2 linked regions of the Homo sapiens genome follow. The protein of the gene in region 2 binds, or shares a complex with, the protein of the main gene of each other region. Each region holds a gene or a part of one and is shown on either strand. Other genes may lie near its edges. The genes, in order: SCTR and SCT. A codon is read from its position in the direction of its gene.

Region 1 (3,600 bases), on a different chromosome or scaffold from region 2:
TCTACCTGGCTTTGCACTGTCCCCAGTATCCCAGTTGGCATTTCTCCAAATTGGGAGTCAAAACTCATGAGTGCATGCTGTTGCTCTAGCGTCTTCCAAGGCCAGCACTGCCACTGAAGAGAGGAGGCTCCACGGTGGCAAGGGAGCTCCAAGCAAGCTCCAAATTGCACTCATCCCAACTACTGCTGCTGAAAGTCTTGGGGCTACCAGAAAAATGAGCATCTCCTGAGTGTCAACACTCTGGTCGGCTCCGGGAGCATTGGTTTTCCTTATAATCAAACCAGAGGAGACTAAGGGAAGACAAGGAGGCTGGACACCATGAGACTTGCCCAGGACAGAGATCAGAGACTCAGTTGGGTCCCCAAGCGCGTTCCCTGGGGAGCTTCTTGGAAGAGACGACTTGGGGACCAATTTGGAATGCTAGTGGGAAGGGATGATTCTGGAATCTGGCCCCCACCTCTAACCCCCACTCCCTCCCCATTCCTTCCTTTCTGCTGGTCTGGGTGGGGCCACTCTCTTTATCAGAGATCCCGGAGCTCAGAGAGGCCCGGGACTCCCAGGAATTTCTGTTGGAAAGAAAAACAAACCACCCATCCTGCCGCTATTATTATTATTATTATTATTATTATTATTATTATTATTATTATTATTTTCCTCCTCCAGCCCCTTGCCAGGACCTGGCTTTGGGGAACAGCAGCGCCCTGGAGCCACCAGGCACGCAGACATTAGGGAGCCGCATCCCACACGAGACGGTGTGGGGAGAGCGGCAGGCGGTCCCATCGCAGACCCAGAAGCTCCTGCCAGAGCTCCCTCAGGTTTTCCCATCCGCAGCCCGTGAGTGTGAAAATGTCAAGGTTTGGGGGCAGACTGATACTGATGTGGGTTCCAATCCTCTTTTTCTGACTTGCAGCAAGAATTTTTATTCCCCCTCTCCTCTCCTTTCCTTTCCTTTCTTTGTCTGTAAAGTGACGGTGATAATAGCAGCCTCGAAAGGTGATTACCAGGTTTCAAGGAAAGATTGGAGGCAAAGCGCCCAGGACACAGTAGGCACTGCCACGGGCGGCTCCAGAATTTCCGTGTAGGAGAGTTTCAGAAGCCAGACCAGAGGAAGGGGTCGGTGGTGGGCACAGGGATTCATCTTAGAGCCGCCTTCGTCTGGCGCGCACGATGTTTTTCTTTGGGAAAGGGTCCCTCCGGAGAAGAGCTGGGAGAGATTAATGTTGGGAGGATTGGGAGGGAAGAGTCCCTATTCCTCATGGGAAGATCTGCTAGTCCCTCTCCACCTGCATCCTGCCCGAGGCCGGAGAAAGGGCGAGACTGTCGCTCCCTCGGGTCCCCAGCCTGCAGAAGGGCGCAGTACTCACCGAGTGCGCGGCGCAGGCGAGCAGCACCGGCAGTAGTAGCTGCTGCAGCGGCGGCGACAGGTGGGGACGCATGGTGCCCGCACGTTCCCCGAGGGCGCCCCGACGTCCGCCTGCCCGTGCCCTCTGCCCGCTCGGGAGCTCAGCGCCCCGCGCAGGGTCCCGGGCTCCGGCCGGCCGCTGCGCCCCGAGGAGCCATGGCTGAGCCACCCGACCTGCGGCGGGCCCCGGGACTGCTCCTCCTCGGACCAGGTGGCCGCGCGCGCTAAGCCGCCCGCCCCATTGATCAGGACGCGGCTTTGCCGGCGCGCCTCCTCCACCCGGCAGGGACTGGCGCGGGGTCGGCGCGGAGGCTGGCAGGGGAGGAGGCAGAGGGAGGGCGCGGGGACCCGGAGTCGGCTCCCGCAGGCTGGGCCCAAGCTGGAGGAGGCCAGGAGAGGGCACGCTGGCTTAGCCTTCTACGCGGCAATCCCGCCCAACCCCGGGTCCGGAAAGAGCACTGTCTCTGGAGTCCACGGACAGAAAGCGCAAGCTCGCTGGGGGCCGGTGGGCAACTTAGGTCACCTTTGTAAGCCTCGGCTTTCTCATCCCTAACAACACGTCTGATAATACCCACTCTCGGACTGAAAGTTGTCACACAGTCGAGGCCCATTGCATCTATTCCCCCCGATAGCTACCTTGCACTTTATTTCCGATTTTTTCATTATTGAAGTCATTAGCGCTAATTCCATGAAGTTTCACTCCCATGAACTCCTCCTTTGATGATGACCAAGGAGGATCTGTGGTACACTCAGGCATCTGGGGACCGTCCTGAGGATGAACCCCCTGGGAGGCTATTTAAGCCTCAGGCAGGTAGTCCCAGTAGCCCTCTCCATCGGTGCTGTGTATCCTGGAGGTTTGCTTTTGGCCTCTTAGTACAAGGCGTCTCTTAGTACAAGACGTCCTCTTAGTACAAGGCGTCTCTTTTGGCCTCTTAGTACAGGGCGATGGCCCTTTTTTACTGTTACATAAAAAAGAGAGTCTCACCATGTTGCCCAGGCTGGTCTTGAACTCTTGGGCTCAAGAGATCCTCTCACCTCGGCCTCCCAAAGTGCTGGGATTACAGGCATGAGCCACTGGGCCCAGCACTAGATGGGTCTTGCAAACTCAATTTTCCTTAGTCTGCACTGGTGCCCACTCCCTTCCTTCTTCTCTCTCCTCCTTTCTTGATCTTTCTCCCAGGCACTTTAAGTACATCAGCTCATTTAATTCTCCCTCACACCCCTAGGTGATACGATGTCCATTTGACAGAGGAGGGCATTGGAGGTGGAGGAGGATTCATTACATGTCTGGGTACTGCAACTCAGAGGCTCAGACAGGAAAGCCTGAATCTACCCTTACATGGCTGACCCGACTCTCTGTAACTGGCCCTTACGCAGAAGGCCATGCAGCTGTTAAGGTAACAATGTGTTGTCCTTAGCAGCCTTCCCTACCGGAAGAGACTATTAGTAAATTGAGGCTGGTAAATCCCAGCAGAAATAAAAGGGAGGAAAATCCATTCAGCTCCTAGGTCCAAAACCAATGCTCAGTACACATCAAACCTAAAGTATACATAATCACCAACCCCCTGCTAGAAACTCTTTCTACATAAATACTCACCCAAGGGCCTAATGAAATGTGCAAGGATGTTTGCGGAAGCACTATGACAGTGGCAGGAAACGAGATGATATATGGGGAAAGGGAATCACCCTTATTTCTTTCTTTCTCATGGGCAGCAGTCATTACTATAATGCTCCTGACTTGTTTCTACCCCTTCCCTCTCTCTGTCTGTCTATCCCCCACCTCTCTCTCATGTGCACCCACACGCAAGCATGCATGCAGGCACGTATACACAGGTGAGGCCAGCTTACATGATTGATGCATTTGGAATAAGGAACTGGCATGAGTTCGGTCCCCTCCTCTCTCCTTCCTTTGACAGTGTGCCCCCCTACAGAGAGCCTGTAACTGGATTTCCCTGGGCCAGGCTGTGATTAGTGGTCGAGGCTCTACTGGAACTGGTCCAGTATGAACTGTTGTCTCTCTAATTCTGGGGTTTAGTTAGGAAACCCACTTGCCTACAAGTATAAACCACATTCTGCAATACTGACTTTATAAAGTGATATTTGGCCGCATCTGTCTTGATCTTATTTCTCAATTGGTTCAAGTTTCAGGCTAGAAAGAAAAATGTTATTTCCTAGGCTGCTTGAACCGCAGCACCCTA
Region 2 (3,894 bases):
TGAAGGTTAAAAATAGCGACTGCAGGGATGTTGACAGTGTGCAGAGAAAGTGAGGCCGGGCGCTGTGGCTCACGCCTGTAATCCCAGTGCTTTGGAAGGCCGAGGCAGGTGGATCACTTGAGGTCAGGAGTTTCAGACCAGCCTGGGCAACATGGTGAAACCCTGTCTCTACTAAAAATATAAAAATTAGCCAGTCATAGTGGCAGGCACCTGTAATCCCAGCTACTTGGAGGGCCGAGGCACAAGAACTGCTTGAAACCGGGAGGCGGAGGTTGCAGTGAGCTGAGATGGCCCCACGGCACTCCAGCCTGGGTGACAGAACGAGACTCCCTCTGAAAAAGAAAGAAAGGAAGGAAAGAAAGGAAGAAAGGAAGAAGAAAGGAAGAAAGGAAGAAAAAGAAAAAAAGAAAGAAAGAAAGAAAGAAAGAAAAAGAAAGAAAGAAAGAAAGAAAGAAAGAAAGAAAGAAAGAAAGAAAGAAAGAAAGAAAAGCAAGCAAGCCAGCAAGCCAGCCAGCCAGCCAGCCCCACATTGCTGGCGGGGCTGTGAAATGATGCAAACGCTGGGGAAAATATTGTGGCTGATTTAACAGACGGATACAGTGCATGACTCGCAACCACAGCAGAACATCAAAGGGCTTGACGGCCATTTCTCCGTCCACTCCATGATGTATAAATGGCTCACAGACACTTGAGAACATGCTCCACATCGCTGGCCATTAGGGAGATGCCAATCAAAACCGCAGCGAGACACCACGTCGCACCCACCGGCATCGTTAGTACGCGACAAACAAAAAGCCACAAAGTAGCAAGTGTTGGCGAGGACAAGAACCGTGTCCCTGCTGCGCTGCTGGGAAGACAGTTTGGCGTTTCCTCAGAATATTTAACACATAATTACTCTGTCACCCAGCAATTCCCTCATAACTATACACCAAGAACGCTTGAAAACGGGATCGGGAAGCGCCGTTTGCACACCCACGTTCACAGCAGCGTTACTCGCCGTCGCCCCAAAGGGGAGGCAGCCCAGGTGTCCATCAAGATGCCCACAGATGAGCGGACGCGGTCGATGCGGTCCCTGCACACAGCGGGACACAGTTCCCCACAAAAGGGAAGGAGATTCCCACACAGGCCAGGCCGCGGCGGCGAAGGCGGAGGATGCTGCGCTGAGAATCCAGCCGGTCTCCAAAGGACAAATCCCGTGAGGCTCCCCCTGCGCGCAGTCCCTGGAAGCGCTGAATCCACAGACAGAAAGTGGACGGGGCGCCGGGGCTGAGGAGGGGAGGGGGCGTTTGATGGGGACAGAGCTTCATTCTGGGAGGACAGGAGAGTCTGAGAACGGATTTTGGGAGGACGGGAGCGTCTGTGAACGGATTTTGGGAGGACGGGAGCGTCTGTGAACGGATTTTGGGAGGACGGGAGCGTCTGTGAACAGATTTTGAGAGGACGGGAGAGTCTGAGAACGGATTTTGGGAGGACGGAAGAGTCTGAGAATGGATTTTTGGAGGACGGAAGAGTCTGAGAACGGATTTTGGGAGGACGGGAGCGTCTGTGAACGATTTTGGGAGGACGGGAGCGTCTGTGAACGATTTTGGGAGGACGGGAGCGTCTGTGAACGATTTTGGGAGGACGGGAGCGTCTGTGAACGGATTTTGGGAGGACGGGAGCGTCTGTGAACGGATTTTGGGAGGACGGGAGCGTCTGTGAACGGATTTTGGGAGGACGGGAAAGTCTGAGAACGGATGGTGGGGATGGATGCACCGAATGATCCTGAATCGCGCACTTCAAAGCAGATAAAATGGCAACACCGGCCCCCCAACAGTCACGCCACGCTGAAGCTGGAGACGAACTCGCCCCAGCAAGGTGCTCCAGGGGCCTCCGGAACTCCGGCCGCAGCCCCTTCCCCGGGGCCCCCCAGTCCCCCCCCAAACCCTCCCCCAAGCCCTCCGGCCCCTCCGCCCCCGCAGGCTCCGAGGCTTCGCGGTGCGGTTCCCTCTGCGGGTCCCAGGCCCGCGCTCCGTTCGCCCCCCAGGCCGGGACGTCCCCCTCCCCCAGCCGGCCGAGGGGCGCCAGCGCGGCGGAGGGGGCGGGAGGCCGGGCCGGGGCGACAGCTGGGGGGGCGGCCCTGACCTTCCCGGGATCGCTGGGCGCGGCCGGGCCGTCCCCTTTCCGGGCGCCGCCATAAAGGGGCCTTGCGGGGGCCCGGGGCCGTGGCCGCAGCGCTCAGCTCCTGCGCCCCGACCCCGCCATGGCCCCCCGGCCCCTCCTGCTGCTGCTGCTGCTCCTCGGGGGCTCCGCCGCGCGCCCCGCGCCCCCCAGGTGAGCCGCCCGCCAGGCCCGCCCGCCCCCCGGGCCCCACCCGCCCCCAGTGCGCCCTGACCCCGACCCCCGACCGCCCGCAGGGCCCGGCGACACTCAGACGGGACGTTCACCAGCGAGCTCAGCCGCCTGCGGGAGGGCGCGCGGCTCCAGCGGCTGCTACAGGGCCTGGTGGGGAAGCGCAGGTGAGGCCGGGTGGGGTGGGGGGTCCTGGCGTGGTGCCCCAGCAGCAACGCGCGACCCCCCAGCTCCAGGACTAACTCTGTTTTGGGGCGGGGGGCAGCGAGCAGGACGCAGAGAACAGCATGGCCTGGACCAGGCTCAGCGCGGGTCTGCTCTGCCCGTCAGGGTCCAACATGCCCATCCTGCAGGCCTGGTGAGCACCCGCCCCACCGCAGACCCCACTCCAGACCCCACCCCAGACCCCTCCTTCTGTCCTGGCCTCCCCGGGTCAGCGCTGGTGGCCACTGGAGGCCCAATTCCAGCAGCGGGGCCGGGGTCTCCAGCCCCAGCCCTCAGACCCTCACGTGCTGTCTCTGCAGGATGCCCCTGGACGGGACCTGGTCTCCCTGGCTGCCCCCTGGGCCTATGGTTTCAGAACCAGCTGGCGCTGCTGCAGAAGGAACCTTGCGGCCCAGATGAGGAAGGAACCCCCTCACCACCTGCCCGGCCCAGGAGCGCAGCTGCATTTGGGGTGGGGGGCAGGATGGGGGAGAGGGGGAGGGGTGGTACTTGGCACCAATAAAGGAGGAATCAGACCCAGACGCTGGGAGTTGTCTGTGTCCACTCAGTGTAATCGAGGCAACCCCTGTGTAGCGGGGCTGAGGGATGGATGGAGGCCCATCCACCCAGGAGGGACTGACCACACCCAGCTGCCCTTTACACCTGCAGGCACGGCGGCCCCTCATCCTTATCTCTGGCATCAGGGCCACCTCCTGTACCTCGACTAAGTACTGCAGGGCCCCGCCCCACCCCTTGTCATCCATTAGGAAACATTCTGGGGCTCGGGGGATCCCGGACACCCTCTCAGCTCCTGCCCGGGGGCCCATGTGGTCAGTGTTTCTGTAAGGGGTAGTGGGGAGGGTGTGAAGGGGCCAGGGGGGCTCAGGCGGGCAGGAAGAGGGGAGGGTGGAGGTGTCACCTGGGGTGCCAGGAATCCACTCTGGCGTGAGGACTCCGGACCCTCTGTCTCGTGTGGCCTCGGACCAGTGGCTTGACCCCTCAGAGCCTGTGGAGCACGGAGCGTGCAGGGCTTGAAGGCGACCATGAGGGCACCGTGCAGGGTTAGGACACTGAGCCCAGCCCCAGCCATGAGAGGCCAGAAGCTTCGGCGCACAGGCCTGGAGGAGGAGAACTCCACCTACCCCTCACGACAGCCACTTCCTCGCCCCGACCCTACCCAGTGGCCTCTCCCTAGAGCTGGGGGCTTCTGGGGGGCCAATGAAAAGAGCAGGGCAAGTGTCGAGTCTCACCTCACCCCCTCTGTCGGGCACCAGGGCCCCCCAGGAACTCCCAGCTGCCCCTCACAGCCCCGCCTTAGCCTCAGTCACTAAGGCCCTGTCCAGCCCCGCCCTGAGAAGC

Evidence for each region.
Region 1: the proteins of SCT (region 2) and SCTR are in contact, whole or in part, in a cryo-EM structure (PDB 6WZG), measured with the Homo sapiens proteins. Residues at the interface, in NP_068739.1 of Homo sapiens: His28 (codon at 2,407), Ser29 (codon at 2,410), Asp30 (codon at 2,413), Gly31 (codon at 2,416), Thr32 (codon at 2,419), Phe33 (codon at 2,422), Thr34 (codon at 2,425), Ser35 (codon at 2,428), Glu36 (codon at 2,431), Leu37 (codon at 2,434), Ser38 (codon at 2,437), Arg39 (codon at 2,440), Leu40 (codon at 2,443), Arg41 (codon at 2,446), Glu42 (codon at 2,449), Arg45 (codon at 2,458), Leu46 (codon at 2,461), Gln47 (codon at 2,464), Arg48 (codon at 2,467), Leu49 (codon at 2,470), Leu50 (codon at 2,473), Leu53 (codon at 2,482), Val54 (codon at 2,485); in NP_002971.2 of Homo sapiens: Arg30, Leu31, Cys32, Leu35, Asp71, Asn72, Pro117, Val125, Val127, Asn128, Asp129, Asn132, Arg135, His136, Leu139, Leu140, Leu142, Lys143, Tyr146, Tyr150, Arg188, Asn192, Lys195, Leu199, Phe200, Ser202, Asp203, Val205, Met219, Phe222.

Annotation. Positions count from the first base shown.
Region 1 is NC_000002.12:119,522,791-119,526,390, forward strand, and holds the start of SCTR (secretin receptor precursor), read right to left. Parts: upstream 1,694-3,600; 5' UTR 1,437-1,693; coding exon 1,365-1,436; intron 1-1,364.
Region 2 is NC_000011.10:625,492-629,385, reverse strand, and holds SCT (secretin preproprotein), read left to right. Parts: upstream 1-2,204; 5' UTR 2,205-2,242; coding exon 2,243-2,313; intron 2,314-2,396; coding exon 2,397-2,498; intron 2,499-2,596; coding exon 2,597-2,689; intron 2,690-2,855; coding exon 2,856-2,955; 3' UTR 2,956-3,077; downstream 3,078-3,894. UniProt on the Homo sapiens protein: Hormone involved in different processes, such as regulation of the pH of the duodenal content, food intake and water homeostasis.